Homo sapiens: one gene and its partners. The protein of the gene in region 1 interacts with the protein of each later gene in a pairwise test. Each region holds a gene or a part of one and is shown on either strand. Other genes may lie near its edges.

Region 1 (5,114 bases):
GGCAAGGGCCTGATTTATTCAGGACCTAAGAGCAATGGGAAACCTTTGAAGATTCTAAATTGAGAGGCTACTGGAGATCATATTTGTGTTTGAAGAGAATCTTTATTTAATGTCTGTCTTTCTGGCTAAACTGTAAGCTCCACGAGTAGAGGCACCAACTTTTGATCTCACCGAGTACAATACAAGTAGGTACTCAATAAATGTTGTGTCACCATTTAATAGCTTAGTGCCTGGCAGACAGTAAGTGCTTAGTAACGTTATGATTTTCATTGCTCTAGACTGGCCTTTAGTGTAAGACAGTGGCTGCTAAGGATTTAGAGGTTTCATGAAATAATTAATTCCAAGAATATCTGTTGAAGACCTGTGATATACTCAGAAATGGCAGCTAAATTTATTTATTAGAATGTCATCACTTCTTTTCTTTTGTGCCCCATCTAGGATGTACAGAGCACAAAAGTGATTGAAAATTGTTACTAAATCAGACCAACCTACAGTGAGGTGCTACAGCAGATGCACCTGCCCTACAGTATTCAGTTTACGTGATCACTTTGGTGCTTGTAAAGATAGCTTTTATAAAACTATTTCTTCTAGAGTTCTCAGTATAATTACCTTTCCAAAGTTCATTTGAAATAGTCTCAATTCTTCTTCAGTCATATTCGTTTATTTTATATAAATTAGAATACCTTGCCATGTTTCTTCCCAAAGACTAATGATTGCCATTCAAAATATTTCTTCTGGCCAGGCTTGGTGGCTCATGCCTGTAATCCCAGCATTTTGGGAGGCCAAGGCGGGCAGATCACTTGAGGTCAGGAGTTCGAGACCAGCCTGGCCAACATGGTGAAACCCCCCTCTCTACTAAAAATACAAAAATTAGCCGGGCATGGTGGTGCATGCCTGTAGTCCCAGCTACTCGGGAGGTTGAGGCAGGAGAATTTCTTGAACCCAGGAGGTGGGGTGCGCAGTGAGCCGAGAGCATGGCCGCTGCACTCCAGCCTGAGTGGCAGAGCAAGACTCTGTCTCAAACAAAAGAAAAAAAGTAACTAATTTTAACGTCTCCAAAACTTGGTTTGGTAAAATTGTGTATAGGGGTGTAAGTTGTAGTTTTTGGGAAAAAAATTTATTTTATCAAATAAAGCTAATTTTTTTTCTTAGTTTTTAATGTGCCCAGCTTTGGATGCCTAGAAACACAGACACACAGACACACACACACACACACACACACACACACACACACACACTCTTAATTTTTCATGATGGGAATTGTTTAACATTTACAAAAGTAACGCGGTGAAACCCCATGCATGTCTTATTCACCTTCAACAGTAGTCAATTCATTGTTTTATCTACGCCAGATTATTTTGAAGCAAATCTCAACATTATCTTTTTAATCTGTAAACTCTTCAGTATCTACTCTAGAAAATACTTTTTTAAACTCTAAATAACATAAGCATAGTATCATCACATCTTTTTTTTTTTTTTTTTGAAGCGGAGTCTCGCTCTGTTGCCCATGCTGGAGTGCAGTGGCACGATCTTGGCTCACCGCAAGCTCTGCCTCCCGGGTTCACGCCATTCTCCTGCCTCAGCCTCCCGAGTAGCTGGGACTACAGGTGCCCGCCACCATGCCCAGCTAATTTTTTGTATTTTTAGTAGAGACGGGGTTTCACCGTGTTTGGTTTAGCCAGGATGGTCTCAATCTCCTGACCTTGTGATCTGTCCGCCTCGGCCTCCCAAAGTGCTGGGATTACAGGCGTGAGCCACCACGCCCGGCCTATCACATCTTAATTAAAATAATTAACAACATTATCCACCACTAATCAGCATGTAGACTTTCCTGATTGTTTCATAAATGGTTTTTAAAGTTGGTTTATTTGAATCAGAATCAAAATAAGTCTATACAGCATAATTGGTCAATATGTCTCTTAAGTTACTTTTAACGTATAGTTTATCCTTTCCCTTTTTTTCTTGCATTTTATTTGTTGAGGAAATGGTCATTTTTCACTTCCTGGATTTTGCTGAATGTATCCCTGTAGTATCATGTTACGTGTCCAGGAAAATATATGTATGTTTTACAGAAATGAGGTCTTGCTATGTTGCCCAGGCTGGTAAAATACTGACTTTAGAAGATATATTCCACTTAATTGCCAACATGAAGCCTATGCTTTTCAAAATCGGTTCCATAAAATCATGTTGAAGATCAGTTATTTTCTTTTCTTAGCACTTTCATGTATGTTCTGTTTTAGTTTGTTTTGCTGTCAATTCCCCAAAACATTGCCCTGAGCTCAAGTGATTCTCCCACCTTGGCCTTCCAAAGTGCTGGGATTACAGGCATGAGCCATAGTGTCTGGCCCAAGTATATTTTCTGTTTATCTTTAAATATGTGATACCTCATCTCCTTTTACTGTAAACAAATTTTTGTTTATATGGAAAAATTAGTTGTTGAAGAGGGAAAGATTTCAAAAATTATGTAAACTTGAAAGGGAGGATCTAAAGGAACGGCCGTGAGCCTCAAGAAATAGAATAATTTTGTAATGGTCCGTGTTTATTGCTCTGTGATTATTTTGATAACATGTAATTTGTTGCCATCTTAAAGTATTATAAAACATTGAAATATAAAATTGTAGCAAGAGTAGATATACCAGTTTGATTTTGGTTAAAGTAACATACTTTGTTAACTTTTTTTAATTAACAAAAAAGATACCAGGTGATCAGCACTCCAACAGATTTTTTTATGGTAATGGAATATGTGTCTGGAGGTGAATTATTTGACTACATCTGTAAGCATGGACGGGTGAGTAACATACTATCTGGTACACTAAATCTCTAAACTAATAAAAAGGAAAGTATTGGGACATAGAACAATGCAAAGATATCTTCAAGGTTGAAGTTGCTTTTATGGTAGTGCTCAACTAAACATGTAGAGTGTTAGATAAATTTTCTTTCTTAAAAAGCATTCCTTTTGAAATACTGATTTTAGAAAATATGTTTCACTTAATTGCCAACATGATGCGTATGCTTTTTAAAATCTGTTCCATAAAATCATGTTGAAGATCAGTTATTTCCTTTTCTTAGCACTTTCACATATGTTCTGTTTTAGTTTGTTTTACTGTCAATTCCCCAAAACATTGTGCACATTTAATAATATTAATTGAAATTTAAATATTTCTGCTTAGCGACAAAGACAAACTTGTCTTTTGACATGTTGAGCTTTGACAAGCTTTTGGTTGGTTTATTTTGTCTGATTTGTTGAGAATTCCAACATAATTCTAGCTTGCTTAATTATATTTAGCCTAATTATGAAATTAAAACTCTTGTCAAATAGATGTCTCAGATTTTTTTTTTTTTTTTTTTTTTGAGACAGACTCTTGCTCTGTTGCCCAGGCTGGAGCGCAGTGGCATGATCTCAGCTCACTGCAACCTCTGCCTCCTGGTACAAGCAATTCTCGTGTCCCACTCTCCTGAGTAGCTGGAACTACAGGTGCATGTCACCATGCCCGGCTAATTTTTGTATTTTTAGTAGAGATGGAGTTTCACCTTATTGGTCAGGCTGGTCTCAAACTCCTGACCTCAGGTAATCCACCTGCCTTGGCTGGGATTACAGGCATGAGCCACTGTGCCCAGCCCCAGATATTCTTAATGCAGTTTCTTTTGTGCTTGATAGGTTGAAGAGATGGAAGCCAGGCGGCTCTTTCAGCAGATTCTGTCTGCTGTGGATTACTGTCATAGGCATATGGTTGTTCATCGAGACCTGAAACCAGAGAATGTCCTGTTGGATGCACACATGAATGCCAAGATAGCCGATTTCGGTATGTAACTCCAGGGTTGTTCAGAAAGGTACTAGCTACCTTTTAAAGCATAACAACTCATTGAACTAAGAACTTTACTTTTCAACCTTGTACGTTCTGTACCATGAAAAGGAATTAGCTGAAATCTCCTCAGTAGCTTTTTTTTTTCATTTAATTAAATTTTCATTAATTTTCATTAAATACACTTTAAAAATGCAGATACCTCTAGAGAAGTTAGAAGGTTGTCATCAAGATAAATCCATTCAATCTGCATTTTCTCCTAAGGAAATGATGCATAACTGTTTTTTTGTTTTTTTTTTTTTTGAAGAGAGGGGAGGAGTCCCAGACTTCTTTGAAAATCTCATGAAAGTATGGGCACTTTCCCTGATGAATGCATATAAACCAAGGTACCTGAAAATATGCATGCAGTTGGAAAAAAGCCCTTCTGAACTGATCCACAAAGAGGTCCTTAGGTGTAACGTCTAATAACTTGATTAGAGAACAGTTTTTGTCAGGGGTAAAAGGTACATAAAATGTGATTTTTATACTCCAAACACTTTCTGGGATAAACATACGTGGAAAGGATGCCTTAATAGGGTATTTGAGAAAAAGACTAGGAAGTGAGAGATTAAAGAGAAAGAGATAGAAAGGTACAGGCTATTGTTGCCTATTTGTGGTCTATACCTTGTCTTTAATCTAAAAACCTAGAAACTACTTTCTCTATTTCTCTTCCTTCTCTAAATCATGAAACTTATTTATTACTATAGCTCAGCTAGATTTTTGGTTCAATAGATTATTTTTTCCATGTTGAATTAAATATTTCTAAATTAAAAACTTTTGGAACATAATCTCTTTATGAGGTGGGGCCCATCTGGTTTCTAATTACAGAATTTAAAGAGGCTTTTGAAAGCACAGGGCAAAAAAGTAGTAGTCTCTATTTTATTCTTTCAACTATGGAAATAGGTAAATAATATTTTGATGTTTTCATGTTTGGGAAAGTTAATATGCTTCAGAATAACCTCATTTGTGATGGGAATCAACATTTTTATTTAGAAAGGAAATTTAGTTTCACTCATATATGTGATGTGCTTTAGCTTTTTGTTACAGTGTAAGCACTCTGAGACGGTCTCTTTCCAGTTAAATGCTTTCCACTGCTTTTTTTTAATAACTTAAAAAAAAATGATATATGGAGGATCCAGGACTTGAAATTTTGCTCATATTTATATGACTTTATCTACTTTTAAAAATATCTAGCACCAAGTAAACATTACTTTTATTTTTAGGATTATCTAATATGATGTCAGATGGTGAATTTCTGAGAACTAGTTGCGG
Region 2 (3,500 bases), on another chromosome or scaffold:
TTCCCCAGGGTGAGCCATGAGGCTCAACTGGGCCCGTAGCTGCTGATTCTGCTGGGTGGCAGCTTCCAGGCGCTCCTAAGGGGCCAGAAAAGAGAGTGAGAAGGCATGGAGGTTGCCAGGTTGTCCCCCTCGGGGCCCTGCCCTCACCAACTCCCTCACCTGGGTTTCCTGCAACTCTTGGCGGGCCATCTCGGCCACCGCTTTGCCCTGAGCTTCCTGCTGCTGCAGCTGGTCCACGAGCTGGGTCTGCAGCAGTAGCTGATTATGCAGCACCTCCTTCTCAGAGGTCAGCTGCTGATAGGCGGCCACATACTGCTGCAGGTGTCCCAGGTACTGGTCTCGCTGCTGCTGCAGACTTTGAGCCTCTTGGCTCTTCAGCTCCACCTGTAGGAAGACCCTGGGCGTGAGGGCAGGTGGTGGCCTGCTTCCAGATTCAGGGCCCATAAATAGGGTAGCGAGGGCTCTGTCACCTGCCCAGACCTCTGGCCCCTTGCTCCAGGCCTAAGTGACTGCCTCCCTTGTCTAGAGCCTCGTGCCTCCTTCCCCAGCCTCAAATTTCACATCCTTCTTCCCACCATTTAAACCGTAGGCCACAGACTGGTGGAAACGCAGAGGGAGCCAACCACCATCTGCTAAGTGTGCTACATGCCTAATGCTTTCCACGTATTATCTCATTGAATCCTCAGCACCTCTGCAAGGAAGATGCTAACTTCCTTTTTAAGTTAAAGAAACTGGGGCTTAGAGATGCAAAGTAGTTGAATGATGACCAGTGGAGCAAAGGCCAGAATCCAGTTTGAATCTAAGGAGCCTCTTATGCCGCTGTCTCTTCCCCTGTGATTGGGAGAAATCCATGCCTCTAGCTGGGACGATGATGTCCAGACCTGAGAGGAGCCCAAAGCTATCCACCTCTAAAAGTCAGAGGGCAGGGAGCAAGAAACAGTCACAGGACTGCCCTGGAGGGTGCTGGGGTCACCTGTGCCCCAGGCTGGAGCTGCCTCTGGCCTCACACCACCCCTCCCCAGAGGCTGGTGCCCGCCTCCCAGCCCTTCTTGGATGGGGCGGGGTTACCGTTTCCTTCAGCTCGCTCAGCTTCTCCTGCAGCTCGCCCAGCTTCTTTCCCAGCTCCCTCTTGACGTGCTGCTCCGACTGCAGTGCGCTGGTGATCTCCATGTTCTCATTAGTCTGGACAGAGAGAAGCAATCAGCGGCCACCCACTGCAGCTGGAGACCCCAGAACTTGCTGCCTTGGTGTCTGCCTCCCATGGCACCGGGAAGGGTGGAGGCAGGTTAGAAAAATCATCCCCTCTCCCCCACAGCCATCGGAGCAGGGCTCTGGCTCACAGATGCCTCCAGAAGTACCATTTCAAGTGAGGGCTACACTGCCCCACTTTACAGGTGGGAAAACAAAGGTCTGGAGGGCTAGGGAGGAGGGCGGGCTCTCCAGGTGGGGCAGCGCACCAGCTTTACAAATCCGCTCTGCAGCTCAGCCAGCTGCTCCTTGAGCTCCCGGTTCTGGGAGAGTGCGCGGCTGATGGTAGTGCGGTCGTTCTGCATGGTCTCCAGGATTTGCCTGCGCGCCTCCGCCTGCTCCCCCCAGAGCTCGGCCGCCCGCTCCAGCTCCAGCAGCCTCTCCTCCTGCTCCCGGTTCAGGCGACTCAAGCCCTCATTGTCTTGCACCTGGGCTTGAAGCTGTCCTGCCAGACCCTCCAGCTCCTTCCGCAGGTGCTCAGCCTCCGCTTGTAGCTGCTGCTCCACCTCGGAGGGCCCTGCTGGGGGCTCTGGGGGCGGGGGTTCAGCTGAGAAAGGACGCAGACAATAAAAGCCTCTGGATTCTCAAAAAAACCCTCCTCTTGGTCCATACCTCCTCTCAAGCTCCCCAAACTTGGCCTCCCTGCTGATGATTCCTCGCACCCGGATGTTAGCCAATCTTCCAAACCACTTTCCGATAGCGACAACTGTGGGTGGCTGACAACGGGCACTCCTTCGTCTTTGCTGATGGGGCACTGAGGCTCATGGAGATGACGAGACTTGCCATCTCCTGGCACAGACCTCTTTCCCTCTGCCTCAAAGCCATTCCATCCACCCAACTCCCTGGGGCATTCTAAACCACCCCCACAACCCTCTGACACCATTCCTGCTCCCAGGTCACCCCAGCCCCAGCTTACCCATCTGGTTCCTCAGTTCAGCCAAGCTCGTCTCCAGCTCCTGTACCCGACTCATGCTACATTCCTTCTCCTCTCTCAATGTGTGCACCTGCCCAAAGCACAGCAAGAAAGGGCCCTGGAGAGGGGCTGGTGGCTGGACAGGCTACCATCTCCCTCTGCCCCCACCGCCACAAAGCCCAGACCCATGACCACCTCTGGCTGTGCTCCTCCCATTTCGCAGATGCCCAGAAAGATCAAGTGACCTATCTAAGGTTGAGGGGGAGCTGAAGGGTCAGGTCTCACCTGCTCTGACATCTGCTGCATCCTCTGCCGCCACATGGCGCTCTCTCCTTTGAGATTCTCCGCATATTTATCTCTCTCCATTTGTAGTTGTCTAACCGACTCCATTACCTGCAAGAATGGCCACAGAAATGAGGAAGGACTGTCACTGGTTGTCACCTACTCCTGGCCACCTGGGGTCATCTTCCTTCTACATCCCTCCCCTGCAAAGCCTCACCTGCCCCAGGTGTGCTTCCAGCTGTGCCCGCTCCTCCATGGCCTGCTGTAACTGCTGGTTAGCATCAGGGGCTTCACACCGGCTTGAAAACTGGATGGTGAAGAGCGAGAAGTTTAGATCTGGGGAGCCCAGGCCGTTCCAAATAGTGCCCCTTAAAAGGGCTAGGGCTAGGCTCAATGTGCAACTCAGTCAATACAACTCTGCTGTCAAGTTTCTTTGCTTTAGAAATAAAAAATAATTTTAAAAAGATCTCAGGCCAGGCATGGTGGCTGATGCCTGTAATCTCAACACTTTGGGAGGCTGAGGTGGGTGGATTGCTTGAGCTCAGGAGTTCAAGACCAACCTCGGCAACATGGCAAAGCCCCGTATCTACAAATACAAAAATTAGCCAGGCATGGTAGTGTGCGCCTGTAGTCCCAACTACTTGAGAAGCTGAGGCAGGAGGATGGCTTGAGCCTGGGAAGTAGAGGTTGCAGTAAGTATCACTCCAGCCTGGGTGATAGAGCGAGACCCCGTCTAAAAAAAAAAAAAAAAAGATCTCTACTCTCTATTATTAGTGAAAGTGTTGGCTTGAACCTCAGAAGGAAATAAACAGACTCATGAGCTAGCCATATAAATGTAATCTCTAAAATAATGGTTTTCACCCATGATGCTTTAAAACAAAACAAAACAAAACAAAACAAAAATTGTCTTAAGCCCTAACCCTAAGATTCTGATTCCCCAGGTCCCCAATTTGTAGATTTTTAGCACTCTCTAGAGGATTTTATGCCAGGACCGGAACAAGGACCCAAATTTTCCAGCTCTTGGCTGGAGTCTCCCCATGCCCTGCATGATCCCTAG
Region 3 (3,500 bases), on another chromosome or scaffold:
CATCCTTAGGCAACCTGGTGGCCCCCTGCTCCCAGGAGGTCACCATATTGATGCTGAACTTAGTGCGGACACCCGGTTGGCATAACGACCAGCTGTTCTAAAGGTCTCTTCCAACCCCTCAATCCTATGCTGCTAACAGTCCCCCCTTCCTCCTGGGGCTCTCTCCTCTTCCTCTGAGTGGTCTCCTGTACCTTCTCCAGGGAGAGCCACGAGGCTTAGCTGGGTCTCTAGCTGTTGGTTCTGGTGGCTGGCAGCTTCTAGGTGCTCCTAAGGGGACGGGAAACAGAGTGAGAAGGCACGGAGGTTGCCAGGTCATCCCCCTCGGGGCCCCGTCCTCAGCAACTCCCTCCCCTGGGTCTCCTGCAACTTTTGTCCGGCCATCTCAGCCACCGCTTTGCCCCAAGCTTCCTGCTGCTGCAGCTGGTCCACGAACTGGGTCTGCAGCAGTAACTGCCTGTGCAGCGCCTCCTTCTCAGAGGTCAGCTGCTGATAGGTGGCCATGTACTGCTGCAGGTGACCCAGGTACTAGTCTCGCTGCTGCTGCAGACTCTGAGACTCTTGGCTCTTCAGCTCCACCTGCAGGAAGACCCTGGGCATGAGGGCACATGGCGGCTGGCTTCCAGATTCTGGGCCCATTAATAGGGTAGCGAGGGCACCGTGGGGCTCTGTCACCTGCCCAGGACCCTGGTCCCTTGCTCCAGGCCTAAGAGGCTTCCTCCCTTGCCTAGAACCCCATACCTCCTTCCCCAGCCTCAAATCTCATGTCCTTCTTCCCACCATTTAAACTGTAGGCCACAGACTGGTGGAAAAGCAGAGGGAGCCAACCACCATCTGCTAAGTGTGCTACATGCCTAATGCTTTCCAGGTATTCTCTCATTCAATCCTCAGCACCTCTGCAAGGAAAATGCTAACTTCCTTTTGAAGTCACAGAAACAGAGACTTAGAGATGAACAGTAGTTGAATGGTGACCAGTGGAACCCAGGCCAGAATCCAGTTTGAATCTAAGGAGGCTTTTTTGTTTTGTTTTGAGACAGTGTCACTCTGTGGCCCAGGCTGGAGTGCAGTGGTGCAATCTCAGCTCACTGCAGCCTCCACCACGTGGGCTCAAGCGATTCTCGTGCCTCAGCCTCCTGAGTAGCTGGGATTACAGGCATGCGCCACCATGCCTGGCTAATTTTTTGTTGTTGTTGTTGTAATTTTAGTAGGGGTGAGGTTTCGCCACGTTGGCCAGGCTGGTCTCAAACTCCTGACCTCAAGTGATTCTCCTGCCTCAGCCTCCCAAAGTGCTGGGATTACAGGTGCGAGCCACCGTGCCTGGATAAGGAGCCTCTTGTACCACTGTCTCTTCCCCTGTGATTGGGGGCTCCATGTCTCTAGCTGGGATGATGATGTCCAGACCTGGGAGGAGCCCAGGGCTACCCACCTCTAAAAGTCAGAGGGCAGGAAGCAAGAAACAGTCATAGAGCTGCACTGGAGGGTGCTGGGGTCACCTGCCTCCCAGCTGGAGCTGCCTTTGGCCTGGCACCTCCCCTCCCCAGAGGCTGGTGCCCGCCTCCCAGCCCTTCTTGGATGGGGTGGAGGTTACCATCTCCTTCACCTCGTCTAGCTTCTCCTGCAGCTCCTTTACTTGCTGCTCCAACTGCAGTGCGCTCTTTTTCTCGTTGTTCTGGACAGAGAGAAGCAATCAGTGGCCATCCACTGCAGCTGGAGACACCAGACCTTGGTGTCTGCCTCCCATATCACCAGGAAGGGTGGAGGCAGGTTAGAAAAATCATCCCTTCTCCCCCACAGCCATCAGAGCAGAGCCCGATGAGCTGTAGCTCACAGGTGCCTTTAGAAGTAGCATTTCATGTGAGGGCTACACTGGCCCATTTTACAGGTGGGGAAACAAAGGCCTGGAGGGATAGGGATGAGGGCAGGCTCCCCAGGTGGGGCAACCCACCAGATCCTCGAAGCTGCACTGTGGCTCGGCCAGCTGCTTGTCGAGCTTGTGGTTCTGGGAGAGCGCGAGCCTCTCCTCCTGCTTTTGTAGCCTCTCCTCCTTCTTCCACAGCCTCTCCTCCTGGTCCCACAGCCTCTTTTCCTGCTTTTGCAGCCTCTCCTCCTCCTTTCGCAGCCTCTCCTCCTGTTTGCGTAGCCTCTGCTCCTGCTTTCGCAGCCTCTCACCCTGCTCCTGTAGCGTCTTCTGCTGCTCCCGAAGCCTCTCGTTTTGTTCACACAGTCTCTCCTGCTCCCGCACTCTCTGCGCCTCCTGCTCTCGGAGCATCTCCTCCTGCTCCTGGAGTCTCTGCTTTTGTTCCTTGCTAAGGAGACTCAAGGCCTGATTGTTTTCCACCTGGGACTGGAGCTTTCCCTCCAGACCTTCCACCTCCTGCCTCAGGTGTTTGGCCTCATCTTGTAGCTGTTCCACCACAGAGGTCACTGCTGGGGGCGCCAGGGATGGGGGCTCAGCTGAGAAATGAAGCAGACAATAAGGGCCTCTGGATTCCCCAACCCCTCTACCCACATCCCCCTCAAAAAAAAAAAAAAAACCTCCTCTTGATGCACAGCTCCTCTCAGGCTTCCCAAACTTGGCCTCACTGCTAATCATTCCTCGCACCCAATGGTAGCCAATTTCCAAGCCACTTTCACATAGAGAGCACTGTGGGTGGCTGACAACGGGCACTCCTCCCTCTTTGCTGATGGGGACCCTGAGGCTCATGGAGATGACAAAACTTGCCGTCTCCTGGCACAGACCTCTTTCCCTCTGCCTCAAAGCCCTTCCACCCACCCACCTCCCTGGGGCATTCTAAGCCACCCCCACAGACCTCTGATGCCAGTCCTGCTCCGAGGTCACACCAGCCCCATCTTACCCATCTGGTTTTTGAGTTCGGACAAGCTCCTCTCCAGCTCCTGTATCCGATGTATGTCACGCTTCTTCTCTTCCTTCAATGTTCGAGCCTGCCCAAAGCACAGGGGAAAGGGCCCTGGAGAGAGGGGCTGGTGGCTGGACAGGCTACCATCTCATTCTCTGTCCCCATCTCCACAAAGCCCAGACCCATGACCACCTCTGGCTGTACTATTCCCATTTTACAGATGCCCAGAAAGATCCAGTGACCTATCTAAAGTGGGGGCTGAAGGGTCAGACCTCACCTCCACCGACATTTTCCACATCCTCTCCTGCCACCGGGCCCTCTCTCCTTTTATGTGTTTAGCATATTCGTCTCGCTCTAGCTGGACTTGTTTTAGTGACTCTGTCACCTGCAAGAAATGGGCACAGAAGTTAGGAAGGGCTGTCACTGGTCCTCACCTGCTCCTGGCCACCTGGGGTCATCTTCCTTCCACATCCCTCCCTCTGCAAAGCCTCACCTGTGTCACGTGTGCGTTCAGCAGCGCCCGCTCCTTTATGGTCTGCTGTAACCACCGCTGGAGGACCGCTTCTCTGCAGCTCGAGGACTGGATGGTGAAGAGTGAGAAGTTTTGATCTGGGGAGCTCAGGCAGTGCCCCTTAAAAGGGCTAG
Region 4 (3,500 bases), on another chromosome or scaffold:
AACTGCGTACTCCTCTGACACCATCTGGCTCTTGTAAACACCGGGGCACCAAGATGAGTGAGACTGATGCCACTCAAAATACACTACCTAATTTATTTATGTTTATATATTTTATTTTTCAATTTCATTCTTTTATATACATGTTTTTGGTAATTATAGTAAAGATGCTGGTGAAAAGTAATTTGTTTAACATTTCATAATGCGTGCAAAAGGAAAAATACTGATTCAAAGAAAAGTCATTCTTACAACTATTCAGCCCTGACAATTATGACAAGCAGTTAGGCAATATCATGACTTGCAAAGTTATACTTAGCATAATGTTGCAATTCAAAATATGGCACAAAATTAACAATACAGATAACAGTCCTACTGGCTAAACTTAGCCAGGTTTCGACTAATTTGGTTTAAATTGAAATTTGATTATATAAAAAGGTTTCTGAAAGTATTGAAAAAGAAACAGTGTACATGAAAGAGAATTCAACAATGTTTACAAAATGCCAAAAGTTCTTACTCTGCCCCCCATTACCATAAATAATTAATGAAGCCCCCCTTCCCCCCACCCCCCAGACTCAAAAAGATTTACAAAGATAAATTTAGCTCAGTGAACAGAACCAAAAGATGACTGTTGTTAGACAGTACCTGGTTAAAAGCTCAAGCACTTTCATAAGAATTCATATATATTGTCTCTTGAGTAATATAAATAATCCGATAGTGTTGCTCTTTTGAGTTTTGGAGACTTCTCACTTAGGAGTTATAACCGTCCTTGTGCTTTGAATAAAACATGAGCTTTAAAGCAGAATGCTGATGGTATTCAGAATTCACCATCTTCAAAGTTCATTGTGAGAATTCTTCTCTGCAGCTTTGAACATCAGGATGGAATTGAAAATTTTGAGAGCAGGGCCCAGTTTAATGCTCATAATTTTAACAATGTCTGTTTGAGTCATAAGTAGAAATGCTTCTCCATCAATTTGCTAAAATGGGGGAAAAAAACAACAGAATGTGGATTAACAAGATGCAGTGTTGTAGAAAATATTCAAGGTTAAATTACCAGCTGTCTTCTACATAGCAATGCTAAAAAAGCACAGAGAAGTTCACGTGTGCAATGACATTTCTTGATATATGGACCTTTCTTATCCACAATGACACATCCCAAAGTGGACTGGGAACAAAGTAAACTAATTCACCTGAAAAACCAGCCAAAGGAAAACAGAAGGTGCCCATATCTTCCTGTGATTACTCTGAATTAGTTGTAGAGTTAAGAAGAATATGGAAAAATCCAGGATGCCCAAAGTCTAGTTTTTATCATGGCAGGTTTTAAAATTAGAAGAGATAACAGGTACATGAATGTTTGTGGACATAAAATAACTCAGGCAAACATATCAGCTACATGCAACATTTTTTTTTTTTCCAGAATTAGCCTTCCACCATGAAGAAAAGAAAATCAGAAAGATAACACTTATCTCTAGTGTGGCCACAGTTAAGTCTTTACACACAGAAGAAAAGCATTTACTAACGGGGCAATCAAACAGTGAATGTGAGGCTGGTGTTACGAGTCACTGACTTTAAGGTGGTTCTTCTAATACGCAGGTAGGGTAACTATGAGAAAGACCCTTCCTCTCTCTGGACATCTTCTAAGACAAAAGTCTATGCTTCTGAAAAATAGGCTACTATTCTCTAGAAGTTCAAAGGTACAACACATCTTTTAGGTTAAAAGATAAAATACTATGAAAATGATGTCTGGCTTACTGGGCAGAGCAAAGAAACAGTCTTTCATTATGACTTTCAGCTCTTCTATCACCTTAAAAAAAAAAAGTTTCCCTTTCAGTTTTCCCACCTTGTACAAAAAGTAAAACACACTTTTGTTCTCTGCCTTAGAACATCAGAAACCTTGACAGCAACGCACTCCGTTATGGGTTGAATGGTGTCCCTGTCACAAAAATTCGTATATTGATGTCCTGACTCCCAGTACCTCAGAATGTGACTTTTATTTGGAAATAGGGTCAGTGCAGAGGTAACTGGTTAAGATGAGGTCACACTGGAGTAGGGTGGGTGCCTAATCCAATTATGACTGGTATCCTCATAAAAAGGAGAGATCTGGAGAAAGAGACACATATAGAGGGAAGGCAACGTAAAGACCCAAAGAGAGACCACCATCTACAAGTCACATCTACAAGTCAAGGAGAGAGGCCCAGGACAGATTCTTTCCTCACAGCCCTCGGGAGGAAGCAACCCTGCCAACCCCCTGACTTCTAGCCTTCTTCAGATTCTCAGCTTCTAGAACTGTGAGACGATGCATTTCTGCCATTTAAGCCACCCGTTTGTGGTTGGCATTGTTATGGTGGCCCTAGCAAACTAAGACAACTCTAAATTCTGCAAACAGTTCTCTAAACAAGGCTGATATAATTAAATTGCTACTTCTTAAGATTTTCCTCTCTCCTTTAAAAATGAAAGACCTGTAAATATAGACTGCCTAAATGCTTCATCAGTAAGAACTGGAGTCATCTTACACAACTTCTTCAAGTAACAATTATGTGGAAAAAGTGTGCTAATTTCAGTAAAAAGACATCCTGCTGTTGTAAACTAGAAGGAAAGACGTTCCAGTGTTAATCTCCAAGTGTAGCACCGTTAAGCGGCAGGTATGAGAAATGTTCTCCTGTTTTCTGGAAACATTGGTCTGTTCTCATTTGCTTGTGCTATGACAGTCCTCTGATAAAGCAAGGTCAGGAAGAAAGGCAGATCTATTAACACTTCGCTCAACCAAGGCAGACCTTAGTACAATGGACAGCCTTATAGAAGTCTTCTAAGTCATTAATGAAAATGTCAACTGACATTCCCAAGGAGCCCACTACAAAGGCTGACTGGTTTATTACAACCTTGGCCCTACTGAAGGCCTGGCGCAGACAGCAAGTCTCCTTCTGAAACTATGTAAGAGTATAACACAACAGGTAACTGATGAAAAAAAAAAACATCCAGAGAACTTAGTGGCTGGGATTTGAAGTTAAAAGTGGGACAGTAAGGATACATTTTGGTAGGTTGTTATTTATAAGGTTACATACACTAGAAAGAAAAAAAATCTTGAGGCTACTTCCAAACTCTTTATTACATACAGGTTGCTCTGACATGTGGCCATACAAACAAGTCTTGATTGGAAGGAAGTCAACTTAATTCAGGAAAGTACATCCTAAGAACAACAGTGACCACTGCAATGTATTACAAGGCTTACTTTTTTTTCGGTTAGCTTCTGCAATGCATATACAATGCCATTATTCCAGACATTAGGTGTCTTGCTAATGGCCTAAAACAAAGGAGAGGGATTTGGAATTCAGGAGCTCTGGCCTTCCATTTCACTGCCCTTTCCACTATTCACTATTTGTTCTTTTCCAATGCCTTAACTCGAAACCACAGTGACATGCTCTGTCTGAGTGAGTCTTTCTCAGAGTGTAAAGGCATGAATGTATTCACTCAACAAAAATATACTGAATGTCTATTATATTCCAAAC

What was found. Proteins that work in one complex are often made in the same cells at the same time.
Region 2: the proteins of PRKAA2 (region 1) and GOLGA2 interact in binary tests that used the Homo sapiens proteins (3 or more experiments, as listed by UniProt).
Region 3: the proteins of PRKAA2 (region 1) and GOLGA6A interact in binary tests that used the Homo sapiens proteins (3 or more experiments, as listed by UniProt).
Region 4: the proteins of PRKAA2 (region 1) and L3MBTL3 interact in binary tests that used the Homo sapiens proteins (3 or more experiments, as listed by UniProt).

The regions. Positions count from the first base shown.
Region 1 is NC_000001.11:56,688,700-56,693,813, forward strand, and holds part of PRKAA2 (5'-AMP-activated protein kinase catalytic subunit alpha-2), read left to right. Parts: intron 1-2,694; coding exon 2,695-2,788; intron 2,789-3,658; coding exon 3,659-3,803; intron 3,804-5,065; coding exon 5,066-5,114. UniProt on the Homo sapiens protein: Catalytic subunit of AMP-activated protein kinase (AMPK), an energy sensor protein kinase that plays a key role in regulating cellular energy metabolism.
Region 2 is NC_000009.12:128,259,008-128,262,507, forward strand, and holds part of GOLGA2 (golgin subfamily A member 2), read right to left. Parts: intron 2,751-3,500; coding exon 2,661-2,750; intron 2,555-2,660; coding exon 2,447-2,554; intron 2,253-2,446; coding exon 2,165-2,252; intron 1,796-2,164; coding exon 1,458-1,795; intron 1,183-1,457; coding exon 1,069-1,182; intron 385-1,068; coding exon 160-384; intron 76-159; coding exon 1-75. UniProt on the Homo sapiens protein: Peripheral membrane component of the cis-Golgi stack that acts as a membrane skeleton that maintains the structure of the Golgi apparatus, and as a vesicle thether that facilitates vesicle fusion to the Golgi membrane.
Region 3 is NC_000015.10:74,072,551-74,076,050, forward strand, and holds part of GOLGA6A (golgin subfamily A member 6A), read right to left. Parts: intron 3,436-3,500; coding exon 3,349-3,435; intron 3,241-3,348; coding exon 3,133-3,240; intron 2,941-3,132; coding exon 2,853-2,940; intron 2,452-2,852; coding exon 1,943-2,451; intron 1,667-1,942; coding exon 1,598-1,666; intron 268-1,597; coding exon 192-267; intron 1-191.
Region 4 is NC_000006.12:130,137,081-130,140,580, reverse strand, and holds part of L3MBTL3 (lethal(3)malignant brain tumor-like protein 3), read right to left. Parts: intron 972-3,500; coding exon 828-971; 3' UTR 1-827. UniProt on the Homo sapiens protein: Is a negative regulator of Notch target genes expression, required for RBPJ-mediated transcriptional repression. It recruits KDM1A to Notch-responsive elements and promotes KDM1A-mediated H3K4me demethylation.